4 separate regions of the Homo sapiens genome follow, and regions 1, 2 and 4 are each reported to be linked to region 3. Evidence: microRNA targets listed by miRTarBase, many of them from high-throughput screens and not tested one by one. Region 3 holds a microRNA gene; each other region holds the end of a gene's coding sequence.
The links. The annotated mature microRNA hsa-miR-6779-5p reads CUGGGAGGGGCUGGGUUUGGC and lies in region 3 at 1,884-1,904, shown strand. An mRNA with a match to its seed (bases 2 to 7 or 8) in the 3' UTR can be bound and repressed. Matches are read on the target gene's strand: a 7mer-m8 pairs with bases 2 to 8, a 7mer-A1 pairs with bases 2 to 7 and ends in A, and an 8mer does both.

Region 1: the mRNA of ACAP2 is a reported target of hsa-miR-6779-5p. Seed matches in the 3' UTR shown: 7mer-m8 at 1,129-1,135.
Region 2: the mRNA of REEP3 is a reported target of hsa-miR-6779-5p. Seed matches in the 3' UTR shown: 7mer-A1 at 870-876 and 8mer at 337-344.
Region 4: miRTarBase lists LRRC47 as a target of hsa-miR-6779-5p. Seed matches in the 3' UTR shown: 8mer at 737-744, 8mer at 910-917 and 8mer at 2,582-2,589.

Annotation. Positions count from the first base shown.
Region 1 is chr3:195,276,711-195,279,826 of GRCh38, forward strand. ACAP2 (ArfGAP with coiled-coil, ankyrin repeat and PH domains 2) reads right to left here. Exons shown (of 23, transcript NM_012287.6): 23 at 1-2,718. The coding sequence ends at 2,618. Among named protein-coding and RNA genes, the nearest start is that of XXYLT1, 7.1 kb to the left of the region's middle.
Region 2 is chr10:63,620,191-63,623,302 of GRCh38, reverse strand. It overlaps REEP3 (receptor accessory protein 3), which reads right to left. Exons shown (of 8, transcript NM_001001330.3): 8 at 1-2,490. The coding sequence ends at 2,434. All of the region lies in intron 1 of LOC105378329 (a long non-coding RNA gene), which reads left to right. Among named protein-coding and RNA genes, the nearest start is that of REEP3, 100 kb to the right of the region's middle.
Region 3 is chr17:38,913,101-38,916,216 of GRCh38, forward strand. MIR6779 (microRNA 6779) reads left to right here and starts at 1,879; the gene lies at 1,879-1,942. It overlaps LASP1 (LIM and SH3 protein 1), which reads left to right. Exons shown (of 7, transcript NM_006148.4): 5 at 1,225-1,375; 6 at 1,943-2,046.
Region 4 is chr1:3,778,495-3,781,610 of GRCh38, reverse strand. LRRC47 (leucine rich repeat containing 47) reads left to right here. Exons shown (of 7, transcript NM_020710.3): 6 at 10-99; 7 at 275-3,052. The coding sequence ends at 523. Among named protein-coding and RNA genes, the nearest start is that of SMIM1, 7.3 kb to the right of the region's middle.

The sequences.
Region 1 (3,116 bases), not on the chromosome of region 3:
CAGATTTGTTACATACCATATAAAAGCTATTAGTTGACATGGCTAAATTCACCTAAGAGCCAACCTACCTTGTAACTATTAATTTAATTTAAAGCCTTGCTGTTTACTCCATCATTTCTGCCAAATGTAGTCCAAATTGGGTCTCAGCATATTCAAGAAATCAAGCCACAGAAATGTGTACTTGTATTGCTAGGCTCCCTGCAATATTAAAGATTTTGCTTTCTCTGAAGATATTCTGAACCATGATCATCTTTAAGGCACTTCAAATACATTTCTGACCACTAAATTTAAGTAGATACTAATTAATTACTGCCATATTAACAATTCATCACGTAAGCCACAGGAGGCAAGAGTCTCATAAGGAATTGCCTTCACAACCACAGAGATTCCAGAGGTGATCTGAATGAAACACGCACCAATGGCCAGATCCAAAAGGAAAACTACCTAGACTTCCTCAGATAAAAGTCAGGATCTTTAGGAATTAAAACAGGAAGGGACACTATAAAGGAAAAGTGAGGTTTTTTCTTTTTCTTTAACGTACTTCTTTTCTTTGAGCTTCTTGGTCAAATAATTTCAAGGTACATGCTAATAAAAACTACAAATCAGATTTTTGCCTTTAGTGAAGGTGCCTAAAAAGCCAGATGATCTATGACTTTGAGGTGAAACAGCAAAGATAAAGATTTAATGTTCCTGTTATTGTTATAATTAAATACAATGCTGTGGAAGTTAGCATTTCCTCAGAAGTAATTCACAAATATATTTTTATCCTTATCTAACATACAGTGACCATTACTAAATAAGCATTACATGCATGCAGTTTGGCCAAATTATGGAACCTTTTCTGTAATGTGAACTTATTTCAATATAATTCCTGCTTGGCTAGATTCTGATTTGATGTTTAATCAACTTATAAAACCCTAGTGACTGGGAAATGTTAGAAAATTTATCTATAATTGGATCATAAAGTTTTTATATATTTTAAAACCTCTTATTTAGAAAGAGTATCAATAATATCATTTACATATAATTTCTAAAAGAAGAATAGACTTAATTGTTGACAACAATGGGAAGGAATCAAAAGGCAAATTAGGCTGGGTGCGGTGGCTCACGCCTGTAATCCCAGCACTCTGGGAGGCTAAAGCAGGCTGATCACCTGAGGTCAGGAGTTCGAGACCAACCTGGCCAAAATGGTGAAACCCGTCTTTACTAAAAATATAGAAATTAGCTCGGAATGGTGGCGGGTGCCTGTAGTCCCAGCTACTCGGGAGGCTGAGGCAGGAGAATTGCTTGAACCCAAGAGGAGGAGGCTGCAGTGAGCTGAGATCGTGCCACTGCACTCCAGCCTGGGTGACACAGCAAGACGCCATCTCGGGAAAAAAAAAAAAAAAAAGCAAATTAATTATTTTATACTTTAAGACATTTTCAAAGATGGAATCAGACTAATTTGTAGCATATAAATGGTAATGTTTATCCATAATATTTTGGAATTCAGGGGTCTGTGAATCATGTAACCGAATACTAAAGCTATATACACGATATAATTTAAAAGAATGTACACTGTGTACAAGTACACAAAATAGATGTAGAAAAAATAAACAGCAATTTATTGCTATATATTTTAGTATTAACTAAGAATAAGTGGGGTTCTTTTTCTCCTTTGTACAGAGATTTTTCTTTCACTAGGAGCAACAGCAAAACTATCTTTAAAAGGACAAATTTCAAATATAAAAATGGCCTACATGATTTTATAAATTGATTTTTCCTTTAAAGTTTTGATGAAGGCATAATTTTGTGACATTCAAGTAACCTTTAAAACATACTTTTATTCCATCGATACATCTGTCAAGGTTTTGGGGAATCAACCCAACAATGAAGAACTACACATTTTGAACTGGGGTTTTTTTTTGTGATTAAAAAAAAAAAAGAGCTTCTTTTTGCTGCATAAAATAAATCTAAAGGACTGAATTATGGTCTACCTGTACAGCCATTATACATACATACATTAAAGTACTGGACAATAACCTGTCACCTAAGAAGTATAACCGACCGCATTTATGAACAAACGGGGAAAACACATTCTCTAGTTCTAATAAATCATATATTATGTGTATGAAAGCTAGGTTACCAAAAACACATCAACACACACACCTATTTCTGAACCACCAAAAAGCCTCAGGGAAGCTAAAGAAAACACATATTCTTGAGGCAGGCAGGACAGTTGGCTTCCACTTGATGAAGACATGCTTGACTGAGTGATCCTGGGCAAGATGCATGGAGGAAAAAAATCAATGCCACCACCCATTGGCAAAAGAATCACTTTTGTCTAACCTCCTATCATCTTGTAACCTAGAGATGGCCTAAATCTAGACTGAACTTCTGTCTACAGAAATAGCCCTTTAAATAGGCTTTTTTAATAAAAGAGGTCCTAAACTAGGTTCCTCTCCTACTACTAGATAACTATGTTTTAATTTATAAATATATGAATGGGTACCTCTTTTCCAAGCCATTCAATATCTACCAAAATTAAGTAGAATTAAAGCAGTAAAAAAATTGTGATTTTTTAGCTGTATACATTAGGGGGTCACCAGATTTCATATTTTCCCATTTTTAAAAAAATTCAGAATTTCTGTGAATCTTGCTGGAAACGATTTAGTTTCTCTGGATTATTGGATGCCATTTGGGAAAAATCACGAAATATGTCCTGATAAGTTTCATCACCTGCATGAAATAAAATAAAGACACTTTAAACATTTACACAAGTATTAATCAAACAACATTCATATTTATTACTAGTACTATTTTATAATTCATTACATTAAAATTTTGTTCAGATGAGCATTTTTGGAAGAAAAGGGGCAACTAAAAATAAATGCTGAAAAATTATGCAATGAAAGAAAAAAAAAAACTATACCTGAAAAAAGCACCTCAGATGCAGCCACAGAAGAAAGCTCAGAGTTAGAAAAGAGCAAAGATGCAAGTGTTTTAAAGCAATGTAAAGAAATACGTTTATTAACACACGGGGGGGAAAAGTCATTCTAAATGAGGTGGAGTAAATGAGACCTTCTTTAAATAAATATTTCCCTTGATAAAGGCCAAAAGAAATGACTAAAACCAAA
Region 2 (3,112 bases), not on the chromosome of region 3:
CCGCTAAAACACATGTACAGGAAAAGAACCAAAATTTAAGAAATGTAGAAGAGAAAGAAGAGTAAAATGATATCAACAGTGTATAATGATGTAAGGAAAGATATCAGAGGAAGCACTGTGAATGTGAAAAAGTGCAGTTAAACAGGACTTGTACTACCTCTTTGAGACTATCTTTGATAAAGAATTTTGAGTCTAGAAGTACAGAGTAATAAATAATTTCTTCAATTTAGAACAGTAATATGAGTTTACTAAAGAATAGGTTTAATACTGGGACCAGACTTTAGAGAGATAAAATGGTGGCTGGGTGCGGTGGCTCACGCCTGTAATCCCAGAAGTTTGGGAGGCCGAGGCGGGCGGATCACGAGGTCAAGAGATGGAGACCATCCTGGGCAACATGGTTAAACCCTGTCTCTACTAAAAAGACAAAAATTAGCTGGGCGTGGTAGCACGGGCCTGTAGACCCAGTTACTCGGGAGGCCGAGGCAGGAGAATCGCTCGAACCCGGGAGGCAGAGGTTGTAGTGAGCCGAGATCGCGCCACTGCACTCCAGCCTGGTGACAGAGCAAGACTCCGTCTCAAAAAAAAAAAAAAAAAAAAGGTAAAATGGTGCAAATCAGCTCCCACAGATAAAGTTCTTGACTCACATGACCTTATTAGGCAACTTCAGATGATACTGTCTTTGAGTAGGAAAGACAAGGACAGTGTAACAGTTATATTAAGAAGTCTAGTACCAGGTCATATAAATAAAACTCTGTTCCGATAATTTACAATTAGAATTCATAGAAATTTGGAATAGAAATTAGAGTCCTTCCAGAAATTAAGAGGCTAAAAATTAGGGTAAAGTAGATAGAGTTATTCAGAATTAAACGTTGGGAGAAGAAAACTGAATTAATTTTACTTGTTATATATGAAGAATGTGAAATAATCCATAAAATATTTTATGACTAGTATCATGAGACAATGTATGCATTATACCAAGGTACTCCTGTGTAAACATTATGTTCTTGGCCAATACTCTGAGGAAGTCCTGAATATACATTACCAGCTGGCTTCATTTCTTAAAAGGGAGACAGATCAAAGACCTCTCGAATCTCTCTCATCATTTTATCTTTTGGACAAACAAATAGAACAGTCAAGTAAATTACCTGAACAAGCATAATAAGTACAAATTTGATTACTGATCACTAAAACCACCAAAAATATATTGACTTAGGGTTCATAATGCATAGTTATCAGTTCAAGCTAAGAAAGCCTTAAGAATTCAATAACTCAAAATCTCTTTGAGATTTAAAGTTAAAAAGTAATATGTTTCTAATAATTTCTAATGTGCAGGATTAATGACAACTGTATTTTGCATTGGCAAATTATCTCAGCCAGAAGAGATTCAAATGATTTTCGTCAATGCCAGTTTATAAACTAGCAGCACATGTCAATGCCAAGCTTGTGAATGGATTGGCTGAGAAAAATTATATGAGTTAGAAGGGATCTAAGTGCTATACTGGTCACTGATTCTATTTCACAAAAGCTACCATTTTTAAAAGCTGAAAATGTAATTGGTGTTGACAAAAACATGTTAAGTTCAATTACTCTGTATAGCTAAATATAGAAAATTGGTTAATGTTTAAAGCAACTTCTTATTTGTTAAGAAGATAATTAAAAATAGTTAAAACTGAACAATTAGCTATACTTTTATATTATTAAAATCCAATGAATTTAACAAATGAAACCCACAGGAAAAGAGATGATATAATTCAAGGCATAGATTTGACATGTCAGAATACGGCAAAAACAATAAAGATAGCATCAGTAAAACAGTTGTAAAATAAGTAAACAATTTTCAAGTGTGCAAAACTAGTCAGGAATAAAAGTGCTATGTGTGGATACCTGGTTTTCAAATATTTGTTTCAAAAACTTTCAGCTGATGGTGGAAAAACTAGAAAGTATTATATAAGTAAAAATTTAAAGAATATATAAAACCTACTTTATTATCTTACATTATGTCCTTGTTATGTCACTGCTGAATCTGAGGCCTATTTAATTACCAGATACAACACAAAAGGAGGTAAACACAGTACATCACAAAGGCTGATTTATCCTGAACCGTAAAAAGGCTCCTTTCAAGTATACTGTGGATTTGTGTTTCATCTTATATCTCAGGCACTCTAGGCTGTTGATGAATTTGAAAACGGACAACATGATTTTCTATAATTTCTAATATACATATTTAGTACATCTTGCAGAACTGCCTTTAGTAGTCAATATTTGGAAGCAATTGTTACAGAAATAAAAACAATTTAAATTCATGAAAGTAAACCCCATCACTGCCACAATTTAAATAATCATTTTAATGTGTAAATCCTGAATATATCATGTTAGAAGATGAAGTCGATGTATTTAGCATAATCTGTCTTGGGATATTTGACGTGTAGATGACTAAAAATACACTTGTGGTCGTTTCTTCACTTTGTATTTTAGTGACCCGTACCGCACCTGAAGAGAGAAATGTTTTATTATTAAGAATTAGATGATTACTTTAAAAAATTACATCAGATTTAATAGTTCATAATCATAGTAATTTTTTTACCTTTTTGATATAAAGAATGAATTCTCTTAATAAATGTATATAAGACAGCACTACTTATAAACTCATAAAAAATGTAGTTGGTAATATTTAGATATATGTTACAGATTATTACTAATAACATAAAAACATTAATCCTATTATTTATGTTTTGCTTAGTACAATGTCAATGAACATTGATTATAATGATCAGAGGCCATTCACAGTCCTCCACTGCTTTCTGGGTATAAAGACAATATGTTATTATGGTTAACTGTTTACTATTTAATCTTCATGTAGCATTAGTTGAAAGCAAAACTGTGTGGTTAATTTTATTCATTGCTTTCTTTGTTTATGCATAGGGCTGGGACTGGGTATTTGAACTATGTGATTTGCTAAATGAGAATGCCATTTTCTACGTATAGCAGAAGATTAAGAGTTTACCATTTTCAAAATTTCCTGATATCCTGATACATTGATCTGAATAAAGAATTTTAAATATAAACTGCTGGCCAGGTGAGGTGGCTCACGCCTGGAATCCCAGCACTTCGA
Region 3 (3,116 bases):
AGGCAGGCACAGTCACAGCCCTCAAACAACATGAGGCCCAACTCAAGACTCCTGGGTGGTGGTGGTCAAGGTGGGGGACTCTGTAGCCAGTAGAGCACTGTGGGGGCAAGAGACTGACTTGAAGGCTTGGAGCCTCACATGCCCGCCTAGTGGGGTGGTCCTGAGGGATATGACTTCTTTGGGCCTCTCTGCTCATTTTTGGAACCTGACCCGAGAAGGAGCCCATCCAAGACAATGTCCCGCCCTCAGGGAGGGTCTGGCAGTTTTTATCCCTAAAGGCTGGGATTCTCAGCGGAGCATCCTAGGCTGTAGTACCCACGACATCTTGCACACAAGAGGTGGAATCGCCTGTTGATGAAGAGCAAGGCTCTGGAATCTGTGATCTTGGGCCACTCACTTCACTTATCAATCCCTTCGCTTCCTTCTTGCCTGTTACATGGGGTCTGCAATCTACCCCTCAGGGGCGCTGACGAGCTCACATGAGCCTGTGACATAAAACACCTAGCACGGCCCTGGCGCAGTAAGAGCTCAGGAAACGGGCTGCTGCTGTGGTTACTGTGGACCCAGGCGGAAACAGAGCAGCCCCGCCCCTGCCGCAGGCATATAAAAGTGACCACTTGGCCGGTCACGGTGGCTCACGCCTGTAATCCCAGCACTTTGGGAGGCCGAGGCGGGTGGATCACCTGAGGTCAGGAGTTTGAGACCAGCCTGGTCAACATGATGAAACCCTGTCTCTATTAAAATACAAAAAATTAGCTGGGCGTAGTGGCAGGCGCCTGTAATCCCAGCCGCCCAGGAGGCTGAGGCAGGAGAATCACTTGAACCCTGGAGGTGGAGGTTGCGGTGAGCTGAGATCGTACCATTGCACTCCAGCCTGGGCGACAGAGCCAAACTCCGTCTCGAAAAAAAAAAAAAAAGAAAAGGGACCACTCACTTTGGTCTGATTCTTCAGTTCTCATGGTCCTTTTACATCGGTCATTTCATTGCATTCTCCAACAGTGTCTGAGGGAGACTGGTGTCTCATTTTGCAGAGGTGAAAACTGAGGCTTGGCAAGATTAGGTAGCTTGTCCAAGGACACACAGCTGGTGCTTCCAGAGCGAGACCTGGCTTTCTGTACCCAAAGCTCTTGGGTAGTCTCTCCCATCCTGGGATCTTGAGGGTCACGGGAAGGAACTGGGTGGTTTGCAGTGGGACCCTTCACCTAGTGCCTTCTGACCTTGCAGATAAAATACCATGAGGAGTTTGAGAAGAGCCGCATGGGCCCTAGCGGGGGCGAGGGCATGGAGCCAGAGCGTCGGGATTCACAGGACGGCAGCAGCTACCGGCGGCCCCTGGAGCAGCAGCAGCCTCACCACATCCCGACCAGTGCCCCGGGTGAGTGCAGGTCCTGTTGGTGCAGATGACCTGAGGCGAGGCCAGTGGGGTGGGGAGGAAGCCAGGAGAAGACAGACAGACAGATACACCTTCCGGAGCCTTGCTCTTAATCAACAGGCGATTATGCCTCTTGTGTGCAAGAGGGGACCAGAGGACCTGAGGCCGGGCCAGCTGGGGTGGGGAGGAAGTCGGCGAGAGACAGACACACACACACACACACACACACACACACACACACATGCACGCACGCATGCAGGCGAGGAAAAGACTGCTTCCCAAGACCCCAAGTTCCATTCTCATCCAGAATGAGGACGTGAGCACCAGGGTCAGGCCTGTACTGGGCCAAGAGGATTGAAAGGAGAGGCCCCCAGGTCATGGGGCTCAGAGCCCCTGCGTGGGATACAACACACAGGCAAATGTGCACACGTGGACATCAGCCTTTGAGCTGTGGGGCTTGAGCCAGGTTGGGGGCGGGGTGGAAGTGCATGGTATGGACTTCTCGGGAGCTCTGGGAGGGGCTGGGTTTGGCAGGACAGTTTCCAAGCCCTGTCTCCTCCCATCTTCCAGTTTACCAGCAGCCCCAGCAGCAGCCGGTGGCCCAGTCCTATGGTGGCTACAAGGAGCCTGCAGCCCCAGTCTCCATACAGCGCAGCGCCCCAGGTGGTGGCGGGGTGAGTAACCCTGGCCGGAGGGGAGAGGCCAGAGGCAGGGGGTCCTTCGGGAAGGCTTGGACACAGCTCATGGATTCTCCTGACCTTTGCACCCACCCTCTGTTGTGTGTGATGATAAGGATCTCAGCCTTGTGAGCAGAGAGGAAATTGGTTGGCGTAGTGGGCAGAGGCTGGCTGGGACTGGGGCCCTGCGTTCCAGCCCTGGTGTACCATGGGCAGGTTGCTCACCCTGCTTTGGGTGGGGTTTCCTTACCCCAGCTACCTGGGAACACACAAGGCAACTTTCTGCATGGGGCCTTCCAGCACTGGGCGCTGCTCTCCTCGCTTCATGAGGATGGCCCCCACATCCTTCAGCTCTCAGGCTGCCCCTGCCTCTGAGGGGCCTCCCCAGCCATGTCGTGTAAAGCGCATCACCCTGATGCTTTGCATCACTCGACTCCGCTGGCTGCCTTCAGAGCACTTTTTCCAACTAAAAAGAGCTCTTCGTGTTGGTCACCTTCTCTGTGTCCCCTGCTGGGCTGGGGACCCTGGCAGCGTCCGTCTGGTTCACCTACTCTGAGCCAGGCCTAGAGCAAGTGAATAAGCCCAGCAGGAATGGGGTGAGATCAGGCTTCCTGAGCCCTCAGAGCTGAAGTCCCGGCTCTGTAAGTCCTGCCACTCACTCCACCCATGGGTGCCGCTGAGCCACCCTTACCAAGCTCCTGGCAGGCTCAGCGCCTCCAGGCTGGGTGCCTGGGAATTCAAAGTAGCTCACGTAGGAGCAGAACAGATACTTAGAGAGATAAAATCGCCTGAGATAATGGCTGGCTGGAGTCTGATGCTCTGGGCACACAAACAAAGGGATGTTAGGACTGCCCAGGGCACTGTGGGCGCAAGAGTTAGTCTGAAGTATAAGGTTCCAGGCAGCCCAGCCAGTCCCTCCCTCCTCAATGGGTCTGTCCTGGATGTGTAGGGTCCATCTCTGAATATAAAGCCACCTCTCTGCCCTCTGGGGGCTTACATTCCAGTCAGGGGGACAAACAAGAAAACAATAAGAAAATAGGTGTATAACATAAGGTCAGCGGTGACAC
Region 4 (3,116 bases), not on the chromosome of region 3:
TCTTTTAAGGTTAAGAAAACGACTTCTGATTTGTTTTTGGAAGTAACAAGTGCCACCAGTCTGCAGATTTGCAAGGATGTCATGGATGCCCTCATTCTGGTGAGTGTGGGGTGGCTCCTCCTGAGAAACGCTTTTGAGCGTGAGTGGTGCTCTGCTCCTTGACTTCCCACCCGTCCTGCTTGCCTCTTTTTTGCTTACTGTGTTGGCAGACAGCAGCATGTCTTCCCTGGGTCACCTCTCATCTCCAGGTTAAAAAGGTATTTTTTATTTGCAGAAAATGGCAGAAATGAAAAAGTACACTTTAGAAAATAAAGAGGAAGGATCACTCTCAGATACTGAAGCCGATGCAGTCTCTGGACAACTTCCAGATCCCACAACGAATCCCAGTGCTGGAAAGGACGGGCCCTCCCTTCTGGTGGTGGAGCAGGTCCGGGTGGTGGATCTGGAAGGGAGCCTGAAGGTGGTGTACCCGTCCAAGGCCGACCTGGCCACTGCCCCTCCCCACGTGACTGTCGTGCGCTGACGCCAGGGCCGCCTGTCCGCGTTTGTTTGGCCGGTTTTGCGGAGGTTTCTATGCGGCAATGCTGAATTATCCGTTAGATTTTCACCCCAGTTTTTTTGTTGGTTTTTTTTTTTGAGATGGAGTCTCGCTCTGTCGCCAGGCTGGAGTGCAGTGGCGTGATCTCGAGTCACTGCAGCCTGTGTCTCCTGGGTTCAAGCGATTCTCCTGCCTCAGCCTCCCAAGTAGCTGGGACTACAGGTGTGTGCCACTAAGCTCAGCTAATTTTTGTATTTTTAGTAGAGACGGGGTTTCACCATTTTGACCAGGATGGTCTTGATCTCTTGACCTCATGATCTGTCCACCTCTGCCCCTCAAAGTGCTGGGATTACGTGATCCACCCGCCTCAGCCTCCCAAAGTGCTGGGATTACAGGCGTGAGCTGTGCCTGGCCCACCCCAGCATTTTTTAAGATGTATGTATTCGTTGTTCTGTTTTTCCAGATGATTCTGTCGTAAAGTGATGCTATGTTGTCGTTACAACATCAAAGTGATTTTACGGTTTTTGATGGGATTATTCAAGTGTCAGAATTAACTGTTCAAAATGTTCTGAATCATGTAGATACATGGCAGGTAACTGTTTATGGGAGAAAAGTACAGTGCTGTTACGTGGCACTGTACAGTCATGTGCCACGTAACAGCGTCTGGGTCAGTGACGGACACTTACCTGACAGCGGATCCACAATATTCTCGTGCAGTGTGTTTGGAATCCTGGTCTGGGCTCTCGTCGTTGGCCTTGTAGATCAAGTAGGGGAAGTGAGTGATGTTCAGTCATGCTGCTGGGACACTTGGTTTTCCAGATGAAAACACATAAATAAAACTACATGCACCATCGAGGCTTGTGTAAAGACTCTGTGATCACACAGCAGCGGCTAAGCACACGTTTCTCATGTGTCACTGAGCGACACGTGACTGTCACTGGTTCGGAGACCCGAAAACTTGGGAAGCCAACCGATGTGCGTTTCCTTGAACGGCACGGTCACTTTCTATGACGCAGCATCTTGTAAAACCATATCATGCCAGGATGCAGCTTGGCATGTGCAAGGGCGTTGGGTTCTCCAGCTGGCAGTGATCATAATCTTGGGGGGAAAAGTTTTAATGTGACCTTAGAATTGGCAGAATTGCGTCTCTTCATACTGCTGTTGGATTGCTTTGTGGGGGTGGAGATGTGGAGACCCCTTCAGGCAAGCAGCCTGTAGGCTGAAGGCAGTGGCAGCACCTCACCCTGGCTCAGCGGGGCCAAGCGGAGGAGAGCGGCATCGGTGGGGTTTCCATCGTGTGCACGCTGGTGCTGCAGTGACAGGCAGGTGGAGCCCCAGGAGTGGACCAGACGCCTCTGCTTGGGAAGCATCGGCAGTCCTCAGCCAGCCGAGGGACAGATGGTAGCAAAAGCTGGAGGATGCTTAGGTTTTTGAGCCAAAAATCTTCATTTATGCGCCAGAAAGGTGGGTCCTGGGCGCCTTCTGTTGTAGACGTTTCCGTTGTGAATGTCCAGGTCAGACCCCCACGTCCATGTGTCTTCGTGTATGTCCAGGCACCACATGTGCGTGCACACCACTCCCGGGAGTCAGTGTGCTTGGCTCATGAGGACACGGCCAGCCACCGCGATGATTTTACAGACCCCACTGCCTTACGATCTGGGTGCCATGTGAGAAGCAGACTCATCAGCTTTATCGAATGACACCATTTGTTCTCTGTTCAGTGTCTCGATTTCTGTGTCTGTAGAAATGACTGGTGATTTTGGGAAGCATCTGCAAGAGCCCCACAGCCCACACACCTTTAGTTGTCAACCTGAGAGGCCCGGGGCCCTGTGCAGTGGGCAGACTAACAGCTGGGTGGCTCTTCAGAGCCTTGCAGGACATGGGCCAGGCTGCCTTGAGACCTGGACCCACTTGTCTGGTCACCGCCAGGCCTTCCCGTCTCGCCCACTGTGGGAGGGAGGGGACTCCAGACAGGACGAGGCCCACACACTCAGTGCCAGCTGGACTGCCGTGGGTGTGTCAGATGACTGCCTTGCCTTGTGTCCTCCCAAAACCTGATTCCTGCTGCTCTGGGCAGTCAAGGCAGATGCCACAGTTGGCCAGGGGCCTGCCCTGCTGGAGGCTTGAGGCGGCACGGGGGCTTCCCCAGGCCAGGACTCTGCTGGAGTTCTGGGGCTGGGGACCCCAGACAGTTGCTCTGAGAGGTGATTTGGGGCTGCCATGGCAGAGGCTGCCCTTTCTCTGCATGGCCCGGCCCAGCCCGGGAAGGAGGAAGGGAGGAAGGGAGGGATGCTGGAGCTGCCATCTTGGCTCCCGGGGACTTGGTGTCCATGCTGTAACACATCTGTCACTGCGTGGGTGTGGATGAGGCTGCCACATGCTGTGCCCTTTCCTGATGCAGCTTGTGATGCGTGAGATGCTGGAAATGTATTTAACTCGCAGCACAGGTGTCTCTGATGTTTTCTTCACCCCACCCCACCCCCCGACTCACTAATAAAAACAGCTCCGCACCTGGCCCAGCAGATCCTTTCCCACCGGCACTGCCAGAGGTTGTTGCTCGAAGTGTCACAAAGCTCAC